2 linked regions of the Homo sapiens genome follow. The protein of the gene in region 2 binds, or shares a complex with, the protein of the main gene of each other region. Each region holds a gene or a part of one and is shown on either strand. Other genes may lie near its edges. A codon is read from its position in the direction of its gene.

Evidence for each region. Proteins that work in one complex are often made in the same cells at the same time.
Region 1: the proteins of GDF11 (region 2) and FST are in contact, whole or in part, in a crystal structure (PDB 5JHW), measured with the Homo sapiens proteins. Residues at the interface, in NP_005802.1 of Homo sapiens: Asn299, Leu300, Gly301, Leu302, Glu310, Arg312, Asp328, Trp329, Ile331, Ala332, Lys334, Arg335, Tyr336, Lys337, Tyr347, Met348, Phe349, Met350, Pro354, His357, Gln361, Ile380, Asn381, Leu383, Phe385, Asp387, Lys388, Gln389, Gln390, Ile391; in NP_037541.1 of Homo sapiens: Leu34 (codon at 6,444), Arg35 (codon at 6,447), Gln43 (codon at 6,471), Val44 (codon at 6,474), Leu45 (codon at 6,477), Tyr46 (codon at 6,480), Lys47 (codon at 6,483), Thr48 (codon at 6,486), Arg60 (codon at 6,522), Ser62 (codon at 6,528), Asp72 (codon at 6,558), Asn73 (codon at 6,561), Leu75 (codon at 6,567), Phe76 (codon at 6,570), Met79 (codon at 6,579), Ile80 (codon at 6,582), Leu134 (codon at 7,176), Asp135, Arg149, Gln153, Pro154, Glu155, Val180, Val181, Asp182, Gln183, Tyr188, Val190, Thr191, Asn193.

Annotation. Positions count from the first base shown.
Region 1 is NC_000005.10:53,476,451-53,483,628, forward strand, and holds the start of FST (follistatin isoform FST344 precursor), read left to right. Parts: upstream 1-4,178; 5' UTR 4,179-4,341; coding exon 4,342-4,426; intron 4,427-5,881; exon of another isoform or gene 5,882-6,065; coding exon of another isoform or gene 6,066-6,135; intron 6,136-6,429; coding exon 6,430-6,621; intron 6,622-7,053; coding exon 7,054-7,178. UniProt on the Homo sapiens protein: Multifunctional regulatory protein whose primary function is to antagonize members of the transforming growth factor beta (TGF-beta) superfamily including activin, myostatin, GDF11 or bone morphogenetic proteins (BMPs).
Region 2 is NC_000012.12:55,739,248-55,746,134, forward strand, and holds the start of GDF11 (growth/differentiation factor 11 preproprotein), read left to right. Parts: upstream 1-3,874; 5' UTR 3,875-4,069; coding exon 4,070-4,514; intron 4,515-6,887. UniProt on the Homo sapiens protein: Secreted signal that acts globally to regulate anterior/posterior axial patterning during development. May play critical roles in patterning both mesodermal and neural tissues. It is required for proper vertebral patterning and orofacial development.

The DNA.
Region 1 (7,178 bases), on a different chromosome or scaffold from region 2:
AAAAAGCTACTCAGTTCATGACTTTCAAATAGTCTCTACATAACCTCACCCCACTCCCTCCATATTCTCTTTTTAGGTACTGAAATTTAACCAGGTCAGTTCTGGTCTCAAATAACAATGTCATATGAGTTTAAATAGCTATCTAGGGAGTTAGATTGAATCATTTGCTAAACTCTAATATTTTAAATTTATAAACTTCAGAAGGAAGACAGCTTTTGAAGCTGACAAAAGACCAATCAGAAAACAGTAGTCTTTTTGTGTGCTGCCCAGAAATTCAGCTACAAAGTGGTCCTATTGTGTTTCTCATAATTTACATTTTTATTTGGCAGAGCAGAAAGGAAAAATAAGAAGTCAAACTTGGAGGCATACAACAAAAATGAAAGGCGACATTTTTATTTTAAAATGTCCCCTTGACATTTAGATATCTACAAACCCAATATTTAACATTTACAGGCGATATAACAGTAAAAGAAATAGCAGCTGTTTTTCTGTGATGTCACTGAACAGGTGTGGTACCATTTCATACCACAGAAATGGGATGGATCTCTTGCTGATGCCCACAGAAAGCCTATAAGGAACCAGTATTGACCTGTGTCTCATTTCCTCAGTTATGATCTGAAAATAACCCTAGATGGCAAGAGTCATGGTGACTGATCTGTGCTGATTTGGAGCAGACATTCTCCCAAACAGATCAATACTATCCAAGGTGCAGCTGAAAAACAGGATGAGCTTGTATCACTAAACAAACACCAAGCTGCTTATTCAAAAGGGCAAAAGCAACACAGCACTTATGTTTTCCACAGTGTGTTTGCCAGTGACCTCAACCCTGACCTGCAGGGTCACCTTCTCTGGGACGAGAAGTAATCCTGTGTTGGGTCACCCTCTGGTACTGAGGGACTCCTATTTGTGGTGCCATTTTTTACAATGAGAGCTACTGTGTCTGCTTTGGCTTAGCCAAGACAATTACATGATGCCAAAACAACTAGTCAAGGCAGTCAATTTAGTCAAATGACTGGTCTGAGCATTTGGCATTACATAGACAAAAAATGAAATAGAAATGAAATTTTTACTTTTACCCAATCATACTGGAATTGTGAGGATACAACTTAAATTAATTTAGAAAGTTTTTGTGACATCAGTTGTTTCTATATACATAAACTAAAATAAGTATCTGGACAAACTAAATAGTTTTGCTCAAACATGGAAAATTTTTTGACTAGCCCCTCCAAATTGCTTCTATTCTAATCTTCATTTAGCTACACAGACCTTCCCCCAAAAAGGTAATCTTTGTGTATACTTGTATGACCCTTTTACATCAACATGTTATATGTACATATAGGAATGAACAAAATTAAAATCTAATAAGAACATACAAGTTATATCACTATTCTCCTTGCTATACGGTTATAAAATATGATGAGATTATGAACTTTAAAACAATCTTCCCAAAGATATTGAGAAAATAAATATGGATTAAAACGTGATTCTATATTTCTCCAGGCAAGATGACTTCATATACAACTAGGCATATAAGTAAAATTTAAATATTTTGTATAGTCCTAGGGTGGAAAGTCTAAGAAAAAGACCCCAGTTTCCAGAGGCTACTGGCCAATTCAGGACCAATAAATATATTTAAACTGGAGACAAATATAAAATCATGTAATTATGTATGATCATTGATAGCATTGCTGTAAGATCCAGTTACTTACCATCTGAGATCTTTTATGCATTTGGAATGTTTATTTTTCAACCTTGGATATACGGTTTGATACCTCTACCTTAAAAAGAAGCTGTGTCTCTTGCTGCCATTAAAAGACAGGGTAGGGGGAAAAGTCAAGTAACAATACTTGTTAGCTTCTCTTTCCTTTAACTTATCCCTGGGCAGGGGTGGGGGAACCTTTAAGCAGAGAAAACAAACTTTCCCTCCAGCACATCATTGTATAAGGACTATACCATTTCTCTGAATAAAGAAGAAATAAATTCAGCTTTGGAACTCTGCCATTGAGTGGCGGCTCCTGCAAAGGGGACAGTTTGCTATTAATTGTTAATGTCGTCTGCCATTAGAGGGCACTAAACAACTCTACATTAATGAGTTGGAGGGAAGAGAGAAAAGGAGACTGGAAAAGAAAGAGAGGGAGAAAAGGGAGGGAGAGTACGGGTAGAGTCTGGGTAGAGGGAGGGAAGGAGAGAAGAGGGGAAGGAGTAGGGGAAAGAGAGCAGAGGGAATGAGTTGGAGGACTGGAGGGAAAGGGAGAAGGGGAGAGAGACAGCGAGACAGAAACAGACAGAATGATTCTGGAAAGATTAAGAAGGATGTGGAGCCCCCACAGCCGTCTGAAGTGAGCAAAATCCAGTCTCCCCCGGGCCGCCCGAGCCCCTCCCCTCCCGTCCTCATGACGGTAATTATAAAGCGAAAAGCGGCGGCGAGGTCACCCGCTTTTACCAGCCTGCTGCACCGAATGCGCGCGGTGCAGGTGCGGCGGCCGCGGGGCTTTGTGATTCATGCCCACTTTCAAAGGGGGGCTTGGGCCCGTCTGAGAGGCACCCAAACAACTGTCTTCTAATATTAGCACGGCTGTATTTCGGGATCTATTATAGTCTGTCCAGACAGATCCCATTGTAATGGGATCTTTTATTAAAAGATTAGCACTATCTCCTGCAGTTGGTGGAAAAAAATCTGTTATCACTGAGTTATTTGCAGTTGTGGAGGGGGGAAGGTTGACGGAAGATGGGGGGTGGGAGGGCTAGAGGAGGACTGGGGGAGGGTCTGGCGGGGGGAGGGCAGTTGCAGGGGGGGAAGAAGGGCAGATTTGAAATTCGTAGAACAAATCCCAGTGACCTGCGAATGTCCAAGAATTTTGTCTGCATACTTCGCTATCTGTTGTCCTTCGGGCTTCAGATGCGAAAAGAACAAATTTAAAAGGCAGCTTTGGAATAAACAATATAGCATTTTCCGTGAAGTAATCGTTTTATATAAAAGGAAATATCGCCTCCTCAGTTTCATTCAGCGGTGCCAAAAATGTTATAAATGAGAGACCCGCCAACTTTCAGCGAAGAATGCCAGGCACTGTACTTAATAAACTGAGGCTACAGAAGTTCATTATGGATGTTGCAATCTTTTTTATTCCGCGAAAAGAGAGAAGACGAGACAGAAAGAGAGAGAGATTGGAGCCGAGGAGACTGAGAGACAGACAGAGGCACACAGGACAGAAACTGGGGAGTCTCCAGGCGGGAGAGGAAGGGGGGGCCAGACCGCCTACGTCGGCGCCCCCGCTCCGGGCTCCGACTCCAGACGCCGCGAAGTGAAAGGGGAGAAAAGAAAGGGAGAGGGCGAGGCTGTGCCGCGGGGAGACCGGGCCTGAGGTGTTAAACATTTTTGTTTGCTTCCGACTAGTCCAGACGAAGGGCCGCGTCTCGGTAGCGCTCTGCCAGGGTGGAAGGTGCCGGGGCCGGGGTTCCTAGCAACACCTCTGGGCTGGGGGTGGCTGCAAAGTCAGGCACTCACAGACCCAGACACAAAACCTCGCGGGTCCCGCGCCCAGGCTGCGGGTGCCCGGAACCGCCGCGAGGCCGGCGCGCTCCGACCCGACCCGGGGCGGGATATTTGGGCAGCCCGGGGCTCTTCGGCCGTTTGCAAAAGTCTCTTTGGAGCGGAGGAGAGGCAGCACGGAGACAAACTCCCGGGTTCCCCCCGCCACCGCCTCCAGCGCCCCCACCGCGCCCTCCCTCTCACACTCGCGCGCGCGCGCACACACACTCACACACACACTCACACACACACCCGCCACCCCGGGCGCGCCGGCGCTGCCGGCGAGCGGCGGCGAGCAGGACTTGAAGTGGGTGTTCTTCCCCACTCCCCACCCCCGACGCGTAGCCCCCAACCCCCGCCCCGGTCGCCTTCCCCCTCCCTCTCGCTCCTACGCAAATAAGAACTCGACGATTCCCTTCCAGCCGTTTTGATTTCGGGCACCTCCGAAAGATAATTGGGAAGGGTTTCCAGAAGGTGGGAAATGTCACCTGATTCACACTGAACTTTTGAAAGCTCCCCACCCCCAAGGAGCCGCGCACACCCTCGCTCGCGGCCGCCCTCCCACAGCCCCACACACTGGGAGACCGCCCACCGCAAACCGCGGAGACCCCCGTCTAGATTTAAAGCGCGGCTGCGCCCGGCTTCTGACGTCCATTGAATCGCGCGGGCGGCCGGCGGCGAGCGCGGGGCTGCGCCGGGATCGCTGCGCCCTCCGCCGCTGGCCTCTGCGACGCGCGCCGCTCGCCCGAGCCACCCGCCGCCGCGCCGGCTCCCCGCGCCGCTGCGCTCCTCGCCCCGCGCCTGCCCCCAGGATGGTCCGCGCGAGGCACCAGCCGGGTGGGCTTTGCCTCCTGCTGCTGCTGCTCTGCCAGTTCATGGAGGACCGCAGTGCCCAGGGTAAGCGAGTGGGGATGCGCTGGGGAGGCTTGGCTGAGGACAGGGGGGTCGACTTTTCTGTGGTCTCCACTTGGTCTGTTCTGAGCAACGCTGCTCTCGGAAGATGTTGAACCAACTTGGGGACTCCGGGATGGAGAGGAGTGGGAAAATTGTAGGCAATGACACTTTAGGACTGGGAACTGAGTTTGGAGCTCGGTTATCTTGAAAAAGGAAAGGGAGCGAGCTGGGGTCTTAGTAGTTAGGGTTAAATGCTCCAAGTTCTGGCCATGATAACTTTAGATGTGATCTCCTCTGTTTGGCTCTGAAGAAGGGAACAAGTATCAGTAGTAGCCTGGAGATTTCAGTCGACCCATTTGCAGTCTCATCTCTCTCCCTCCCACATCTTTTGGATACTTAAAAAAAAAAAAGGAAAGAAAGAAAAGAAAACCTGGGGGTTTGGGGGAGAGATACTGAATTTTATTTGGTGGCTGGGGGACGTGGTTTCAGAAACTTTGCCCAAACTTGGAAATGTGGGTGCTGAAGATTTTCAAGGGAAGTAGCTTTCTGCCTAGTGGATGCTTCTTCCAACCCCATCCCCCATTCTCGCAAAAAAAAAAAAAAAAAAAAAAAAGCCAAATTATTACCCCAAAGTGCTTTGAGCACTTTACAGTTTTTTTCCCCTCTGCCTCATTCTTCTTTCTGACCCTTAGCTTTCTGTAAAACAGTGAGCAGCCCATAACTGACTTAAATTCTGAAATGGGTTAAGAGCAAATTTCTGAAGCTTGCCTTTTAAAAATAGATTTGTTTATTTCAATTAGTCTTTGGGCAGAATGTTTAAAATAATAATAGCAGCTTGCGATCCAATGATTGTTAAAGTCATATTGGTGATTCATGAGAAGTCTTCTCGACCCAAATCCGAACATTAAAAAGGGGGAAGAGGGAGAAATCACTTGCAAATATTTCTTGCTAGGTATGAGATAGGTACTTATAACCGTGAAATGGTAGGAAGACTCCCCCCTCCCCCCACCTTAAGGCATTACTTTCCCTGCTTCAGCGTTAACATTTTAAGTATGTTGTAAACTGCCCTCCTGGGCACTGCCCCTCGCCGTCTGCATGGCACTGCGCTGGGTTGCCCGCCTTTAGAGGAGAGGCTCTGCCTGGTGCCCGGACGTGGGCGCGGAGGAAAGCAGCCCTCGGAGATTTCGAAAGATCGCGGTGGCCGCGGGCGTGCTCCGGTCTGGCGGATTGCAAAACGGGCCCGTCGGGCTGGCTGCGCCTGGAGGCCGCGCGGGGTAGCTCCGGGCTGGGCCGGGTTGCTTTTTTGCTTTCATTTTTCAGAAGTGCCTTTTGCTTGATCTGTTTCTCTCTCTCTCTCTTTCTTTTCTTTCTTCCTCTCTCTCTTTCTTTCTTCCTTTTTTTCTTTCTTTCTCTTTCTTTTCTTTCTTTCTCTTCTTTCTTTTCTTTCTTTCTTTCTCTTTCCTTCTCCCTCTCTCTCCCCTCCATCTCTCCTCTCTCCTCTCTCTCGTTCTCTTACTTTCTTAACCCCTGTCACAAATAATTCCTGTACCCGCCTACATGAAACCAGCATGTAAAAACATCCGTCGCATCCTGTTTTTGTCAGGTTCTTTAATCTGCTCTTCGAGTCTCTGCAGGTTATGAAATGGGACGAATAAAAGTAAACAGTCTAGTAAAAGTCAATGCAAGCTGCACGTGTTGTGTCTGGGTCACTGGTAACTGACATTGATATGGCTGGGGCGCCCTGTCTTCTCCCTCTCTCCCTCCCTCCCTCTCGCCCACCTCCCATCTCTGTGATCAGGGCTTCCCCCTCCACTGCCTTCTTTTTCCACCCCTCCACCCCTTTCGATTTATTTCCTACTTTTCTCCCGCGTCTCTCTCACTTCCCCTCCTCCACGCTCACCCCCTCCCCATCCCCGCCGGGTCTCCTTCGCTAGCCACCTCGCTCTCCCTGCCCTGCCACCGCTCACTGCTCACTCACCCACCTCCCCACCCTTGTCTCTTCACAGCTGGGAACTGCTGGCTCCGTCAAGCGAAGAACGGCCGCTGCCAGGTCCTGTACAAGACCGAACTGAGCAAGGAGGAGTGCTGCAGCACCGGCCGGCTGAGCACCTCGTGGACCGAGGAGGACGTGAATGACAACACACTCTTCAAGTGGATGATTTTCAACGGGGGCGCCCCCAACTGCATCCCCTGTAAAGGTAGGACTCCTTCTTCCCAACTTGCAGGCCCTCAGTAGAGGGCGTCTTACCCTTAGCTTCCCCACTACCTGACTGGGGTTTGGGAGTAGGAGAGCTTTGTTCCTGGGCTTCCCCTTCCTGTCCCTTGCCCTGGTAAGCCGTGCAGACTCTAATTCTGCCTGTTACAGGCTGTAGGGAATACACGCCAGACTTCTTAGCCAAGTGTGGTGGTGAAACCCACCAACCTGTGCTCCTTAATGAGAGAGATCTGGGTGTGGGGCACAGCCCAAGGTCCACACTCTTTCACCAACTCCCAATATTCCAGGAGAGAGCCTGGGGCCCCTCCAGCGCAAACTCAGGGCTGCATGATTGCGCAAGGCACCCGAAGCCCTCCTGGCTGACCTGCAGACTGCCTGGCTCTGGTTTTAATCCATGCCTGTTTCTAACTCACAGAAACGTGTGAGAACGTGGACTGTGGACCTGGGAAAAAATGCCGAATGAACAAGAAGAACAAACCCCGCTGCGTCTGCGCCCCGGATTGTTCCAACATCACCTGGAAGGGTCCAGTCTGCGGGCTG
Region 2 (6,887 bases):
GAGCGTTGTAAGTTGGGGTAACAGTAATAACTAATGCATTTAGAACAGTTTTTCAGACATTTAATCTTCATAACCTTATGAAATAGGTACAATATTGTTATCCTTGGCCAGGTACAGTGGCTCACGCCTGTAATCCCAGCAATTCGGGAGGCAAGGCGGGTGGATCACTTGAGGTCAGGAGTTCAAGACCAGCCTGGCCAACATGGTGAAACCCTGTCTCTACTAAAAATACAAAAATTAGCCAGGCTTGGTGGCGCGTGCCTGTAATCCCAGCTATTCGGGCGGCTGAGGATAGGAGAATCGCTTGAACCTGGGAAGTGGAGGTTGCAGTGAGCCGAGATCTCGCCACTGTACTTCAACCTGGGCGACAAAGCAAGACTCCGTCTCTCTCTCTCTCTATATATATATATAATTATTCCCATCTTACAGGTGAGGAATCTGAGGTATAAAGAGGTTTAATAACTTGTCCAAGTTTACACAACCAGAAAAGGGAGAGAGCTGGGACTTGAACCCAGCCAGCCTACTTCTAGTCTAGAAGCTAGGCGATTATCTCCATACCTCACAGAATGGTGCAGATATATCTGGGAGAAGCAACTACTCTAGACCCGAAGTCAGGAAGGGATTCTTGGATGGGATCTATGCTGAGACCTGAAGAAAGAGTAAACTTGGCCAAGAGATTGGTGGGTGGAAGAGAGTGGAAGTAGTAGGGGGAATTGTTCTAGGAAGAAGAAACAACCTGTGCAAAGATTCAGAAATGGTCAAGAGGACAAGGGTGAAACAAGACATTCAGATTTCTAGCCTGGATGATTGTCATTCACTAAAATGAAAAGCTGCAGGATGGGACACATTTTAGGGAGAAAGAAGGGGTTCTCTAACCTGTGATATTTGAAGTGCCATGAAACATCCAGATTGAGATATGCAGGAGGCATCTGGCCTAGAGTTCTGGCTGGTCCTGTTTACTTAATGTCTTCTTTTCTTTTCTTTTCTTTTCTTTTCTTTTCTTTTTCTTTTCTTCTTTTCTTTTCTTTCTTCCTTCCTTCTTTTTTTTTTTTTTTTTTTTTTGTTTGACAGAGTCTTGCTCTGTCGCCCAGGCTGGAGTGCAGTGGCATGATCTTGGCTCACTGCAACCTCCGCCTTCCAGGTTCAAGTGATTCTCCCATCTCAACCTCCTGAGTAGATGGGACTACAGGCGCATATCACCATGCCCAGCTAATTTTTGTATTTTCAGTAGAGACGGGGTTTCACCATGTTGGCCAGGCTGGTCTCGAACTCCTGACCTCAGGTGATCCACCCACCGTGGCCTCCCGAAGTATTGGGATTACAGGCGTGAGCCACCGCGCCCGGCCTACCTAGTGTCTTTTCTAGTTTATATGTTCTCTGAGGAAAGGAGCTGAGTCTTACTTACTTTTGCATCTCATTTATCTTTGTACCTGCCACTAGATACATGTTTGGTGAGGAAGTGAAGCCTGTACTACCTTCTCTAAGGGAGAAGAAGGAGGTGACACCAACTTTGCTCTCACAGCCTTTCCAATTTTGCTGAAGAAATGACAGAGAAACATTTTAGAAAATAGGATATGCCAGAATATGTGCTAAAGGCAATCGCTGCTCTGGAAAATCAGAAAGGAAAGGAAGAATCATGAAGGAGAAGAAGCCCATGAAGGCCACTATTGATTGCTTATATGTAATCCCCACAACCAGTTAAGGGTAGGAATTGTGGCCCCATATTATAGATTAAGAAACTTGATGAAATGCTGAAATGCCCATGTCTTGGTTGAAAGCAAGGGAGGGAACAAGCTAAGTTTTTGTTCCAGTCTGTTTTGTTTTCAGTTTCTGTTACCCATGGAAATGGATTGTCTCTTCAAAGCTCCCCAGCTTGGTCCTCCTAACCCCTACCCAACCTCCTCCCCTCATACCTGGATCCCCAGTTTCTTCCCTTATTTTACTCCAGTTCCTCAACCCAACTCTATCCTTATGTCTGGTGCTCCTGATGCCTATGCCAAGCCAACTTTAAGATATGTTATTGGGCTTTAATTCCAGAGAGGAAACCAATGCCCCTCTATTCTGAGAAGCCCAATAATAAAGTTCATCCATTTATTAAATAAACATTGTGAATGCCAGGAAATTAGCAAGACCTGATTCCTTCAAACATTTTCTTTTCTTTTCTTTTTTTTTTTTTTTTGAGACGGAGTCTCACTCTGTCGCCCAGGCTGGGGTGCAATGGCGCGATCTCGGCTCACTGCAAGCTCCGCCTCCCAGGTTCACGCCATTCTCCTGCCTCAGCCTCCCCAGCAGCTAGGACTACAGGCACCCGCCACCACGCCCGGCTAATTTTTTGTATTTTTAGTAGAGACAGGGTTTCACCGTGTTAGCCAGGATGGTCTCGATCTCCTGACCTCGTGATCCGCCCACCTCGGCCTCCCAAAGTGCTGGGATTACAGGCGTGAGCCACCGCGCCTGGCCTGGCACAAACATTTTCCATTTGACTATTGCTCCAGGGCTTTCAGATCCAGAAATAAGCCTGGAAAACCTGAAGTCAGAAGTTAAGCACATTCAAAACATTTTTTCACCTTAGTACTGTTTTACTCTGCTCTCTGACTGCCCAGGATCACACCTGAAGACTAGGGCTGGTCCCACATCTGTATTTCATCTCGTGCATCTGAGCGCAGACTTCTTTCCCATGCTCACCCTTGCAACCTCCAGCCCCTTCTCAGACTTCTAAGACCCTGCAGATCCAAAGATATAGCTAGAAATCCAGAGATCTAGATTTCTCCCCAAGTATAACAGCCTCCAGCCATCTCCTCTCACCCTTCCCCCAGTGGCCTCTAGCTCCTGCCTTTTCCAGCCGGCTGACTACATTAGCCCTGTTAAGCCCCAGTTTCAAGCTCACAGTCTTCCCAGCTCTATGTCTTCCCTCTGTTTCAGTTCTTCCCATCACCTCTCCACCTTCTTAGGTTGTCCCTGACCTCTTCCTCTCCTAGTCCCCTTAATCCCTCTGATGAGCCTAGCCTGGTGCTTCCTTCCATGGCTTCCTTGAGCATCTTCTTTGGGCTACCTCTGGTGGCTAGAGCTCCTCTGGTCTCAAGTTCTCCACCTCTGTCCCCTGGGCTCTCTGTGCTCCCACCAAGGCTGACTCTTGTGGCTCCTTCTCTCAGGAGTTTCTGCCTTTCCTCTCCCCCACCCCCAATCCCCTGCACCTGCCTCCTCAGGGGCTCCCTTGTTGTCTCCCTGTCTGTGCCCCTCTCTCTCCTCCCCCATCCTGATTTCTCTCCCCCCCACCCCCCCCCCCACCCCTTTCCCAGGGCACTCTTCTGTCCTCTGTTCCTCTGCCGCTGTTCCCATCTCCATGACCCCCGATCTCTTCTGGTCTGGCTCTGTAGACCTCTGTCTCCCCCTATCTAGTGGTACCCCTCTTCTCCCCATTTTTGTCTCCACTCTAACTCTCCCACTAGTTGTCCCAGTCTTCCTCCTTCTTGGTTCTGTGTCTCCCACAGACACACAATTTCCCTCTCTAGCTAAGTCTCTCACCTCTGCGTCTTCCCCCTGACTCTTCTTTTCCTCCTTTGTCTCTCCCTCTCTCCTCCTCCTTTTCCTATCTCTGTCTCTTCCCCCTTATCTCTCTGATTCTCCTTGGTCTCTCTGGCTCTGACTTTCCCTCTATATCCGCCCCCCCGCCCCCTCATATCTCTGTCTCTTCATCTCTCTCTGGCCCTTGCTCCCTCATTCCCTCCCTCTCTCTATTCCTCGGCTCTCTCCGGCTCCCTCTCTCGCCTCGGATGACAGCGCTGCCTCTTTTGTTGGCTCCGCAGCCAATCGCGGCCGCTGACGACACGGGGGCCGGGGCTATAAAGGGCCTGGCCCGGGCTCGGGCCCCCCCAGCCGCCCGCCCCGGCCGCCCGCCCGCCCCGCCCGCGCGCCCGCCGCCCCCGGCCCCCCGGGTCCCCCCTCGGCCGGGCAGCCCCCAATCCCGCGCCGCCCGGACCCCCTCCTCCTCCCTCCCTCCTCCCTCCGCCCCCTCCCCGCGGGACTCCGGCGTCCCCGCCCCCCAGTCCTCCCTCCCCTCCCCTCCAGCATGGTGCTCGCGGCCCCGCTGCTGCTGGGCTTCCTGCTCCTCGCCCTGGAGCTGCGGCCCCGGGGGGAGGCGGCCGAGGGCCCCGCGGCGGCGGCGGCGGCGGCGGCGGCGGCGGCAGCGGCGGGGGTCGGGGGGGAGCGCTCCAGCCGGCCAGCCCCGTCCGTGGCGCCCGAGCCGGACGGCTGCCCCGTGTGCGTTTGGCGGCAGCACAGCCGCGAGCTGCGCCTAGAGAGCATCAAGTCGCAGATCTTGAGCAAACTGCGGCTCAAGGAGGCGCCCAACATCAGCCGCGAGGTGGTGAAGCAGCTGCTGCCCAAGGCGCCGCCGCTGCAGCAGATCCTGGACCTACACGACTTCCAGGGCGACGCGCTGCAGCCCGAGGACTTCCTGGAGGAGGACGAGTACCACGCCACCACCGAGACCGTCATTAGCATGGCCCAGGAGAGTAAGTGGGCTGCGGGGCGCGAGCAGTGGGGTGCTGGCTCTGGCCCCGCGAAGGGCGCCTTCTGCTCCAAGCGGGGCGCTCCCTGCTGCCCCGGCCCGGAAGCTTTTTCTGCGAAAACTTGACGAATTAGGGAGCGGGGGCTACTTCATAGAAGTTTTCCGAGCGGTGGAGATGGGCTGCAAAGTTGTATGCACGCCTAGTTCCCGGAGGTTGGGGCGGGGGAAATGGGGCGGGTTTCGAGATAGTGCCTTCCACCCCCAGTATGCTAAAAAGATCCTTGTTGGAGTCCGGGGAAGCTGGGGCTGGGCAGTGACTCTGTCCTGAAAAGCCGTGGTGGGGAGGCTGGAGAACAGAATCGGGAGGCTGCAGGACCCCCGCAGCCCCAGCTGGACTGCAGTGCTCTCTGCTTCCCAGTGGCCCTGGCGGTAACTCCCCACTCCGTGCTCCGTTCGCAACGTGCCCAACGGGTTGCAGAGAACTGTGTGCTTTCTCCCAAGAATAGGGTCCCAGAGCCCTGTACACCTCCTGGCAGCCCAGCTGGCACCCTTTCCATCCTGACCCCTGTCTCAGACCGGGTATCCCAAGGGGTCGGAAAAGCTGTGCCTTCTTGATACTGACCGAGCTCGGAGAGCTCAACTCCATTGCGCTGGGGGCTAAGGACACTCATTGGCTACTCAAACCTTAGTGTTCCATCCCTTATTCGCCCACCCCTACCGCAGGTGGACTTGAGAGAGACGAAGACCTAGGAAAAAAGAGAAAGTAGTAGATGGGGGAGCAGGAACCCAGGCATCCGAGCCCCTGACCAAACGGAAGATGAACATATAATAGACATGAGCTGCTTTGAAATTTTATGGCCTGGAAAATCCAGGCGAATACTACACCCCCCCTTTTCCAGCTCTCCTTAGGGTCAGGTGACTCCTTCTCCTCCCCCACTGAGGTCTCCCCCCCTCCCCAACTACAGGGAACCAGGCCTCTCTTATTCCCTAGTGGTTTGGCAAGGTTCCCCCCTTCCCACAGCCCCCTGCAACACACACAGAGTTTGGTTTTATGGCTGTGAACAGAAGACGGGGGAGACTGGTTTATTGGCAGATGGGTCATAAAAAGCTGGGGGCTGAGGGGAGTCCCAGTGGCCCACCCCCATGGGAGAGGCACAGGAACCCAGGTGTGCATCTGGGAGGCTGAGTGCCTCACACTGCCCCTGGTATTTCTGCAGACCTCAATTCCACAAGACTTGGTCAGGGCTGTTAAACTCAAAGAACCAGGAAACTGGCTGTGGGGGTGGGAGGTATGGGGATCCGGTCTGGGGTTCCTCAGTTTCCCTTCTATTCTTAAGCCTTCTGCTTATGGAAGCTAGGGTCAGTCTCAGATCGACTGAGGGCAGGGGTAGGGGGTGGGGTTTCTAGGAAACAGAGTTATAGAGGAATTCAGATCAAGAGTTTGCTGGAAGATGAAGGTTACAGAGGGAAAAGATACTCTAGTCTCTGTGGTGTAGTGTGTGTGAAGATTTCCAGGATGGGTGATGGGGCTGTGGACTTCTCCTTGCCCCTAAATATCCTTAGCATCCCTTAACCAACAGGCCTGAGCCCACCAGAGTTAGCTCTGGTAATGGGGATACACGAAGTGAAGGGACCCTGCCTTCATGAGTTGGGCTGTGCAGGTGAGGCCTGGGTCGGTGGGAAGGGGACACCAGCTGGTAGGATCCCATCAAAACTTACAGTCCCGTGCCACCCCAGGACTTGTACAAGTAGGGAACTGGGTCTCCGGCCAGGTATTGTACGTCCCCTTTAAGAGCCTAGCTGAGCTCTTAAGAGAGGGAGGGGGAGTGGAGGGGAGGGGAGGGAGAGAGGGGAAAAGGAAAAAGAGACTTTTATAGTCTAATCCCCAGGGACCCGCTTTAATAAGAGACTTGTGCTCTGCTAATCGGGGGAGGTGTTTGTCAGCAGAGATGGCCTCCGTTCCCCTCCCCCTCCCTCCCCTCCCCCAGCCCTCAACCCTGGACCCCAGCCCCCACCTCTCCTAGGCTGCTCTGCCTGCCCTAGTTCCCTCTACCCTCTCAGGCTCTCCCACCAAGCCTTCATCCTGGGAACCCAGCCCCCTGCCCTTCTGGGAGCCAAGCCCAGCCCGAGTTTCTCTCTCCTCCCCACACCAAGAGGCCCCTGCCCTCTCAGCCCAACCTCCTGCCCTTAGGCCTTCCAGCCATGGTTGGGAGTGTGTGTGTTTGGGGGGGTTAGGGTGGGGGGAAGGGGAGGTGGTGTGCAGGGAGGGGGTTGGGCATTTGCTGAAAATAGTGCAGTGACCTCTCTCTCCCACCAGCGCCGCCTACTAAACCTGACCTGCTGCCTGCCACCAGCCCGATCAATTCAACACAGATGT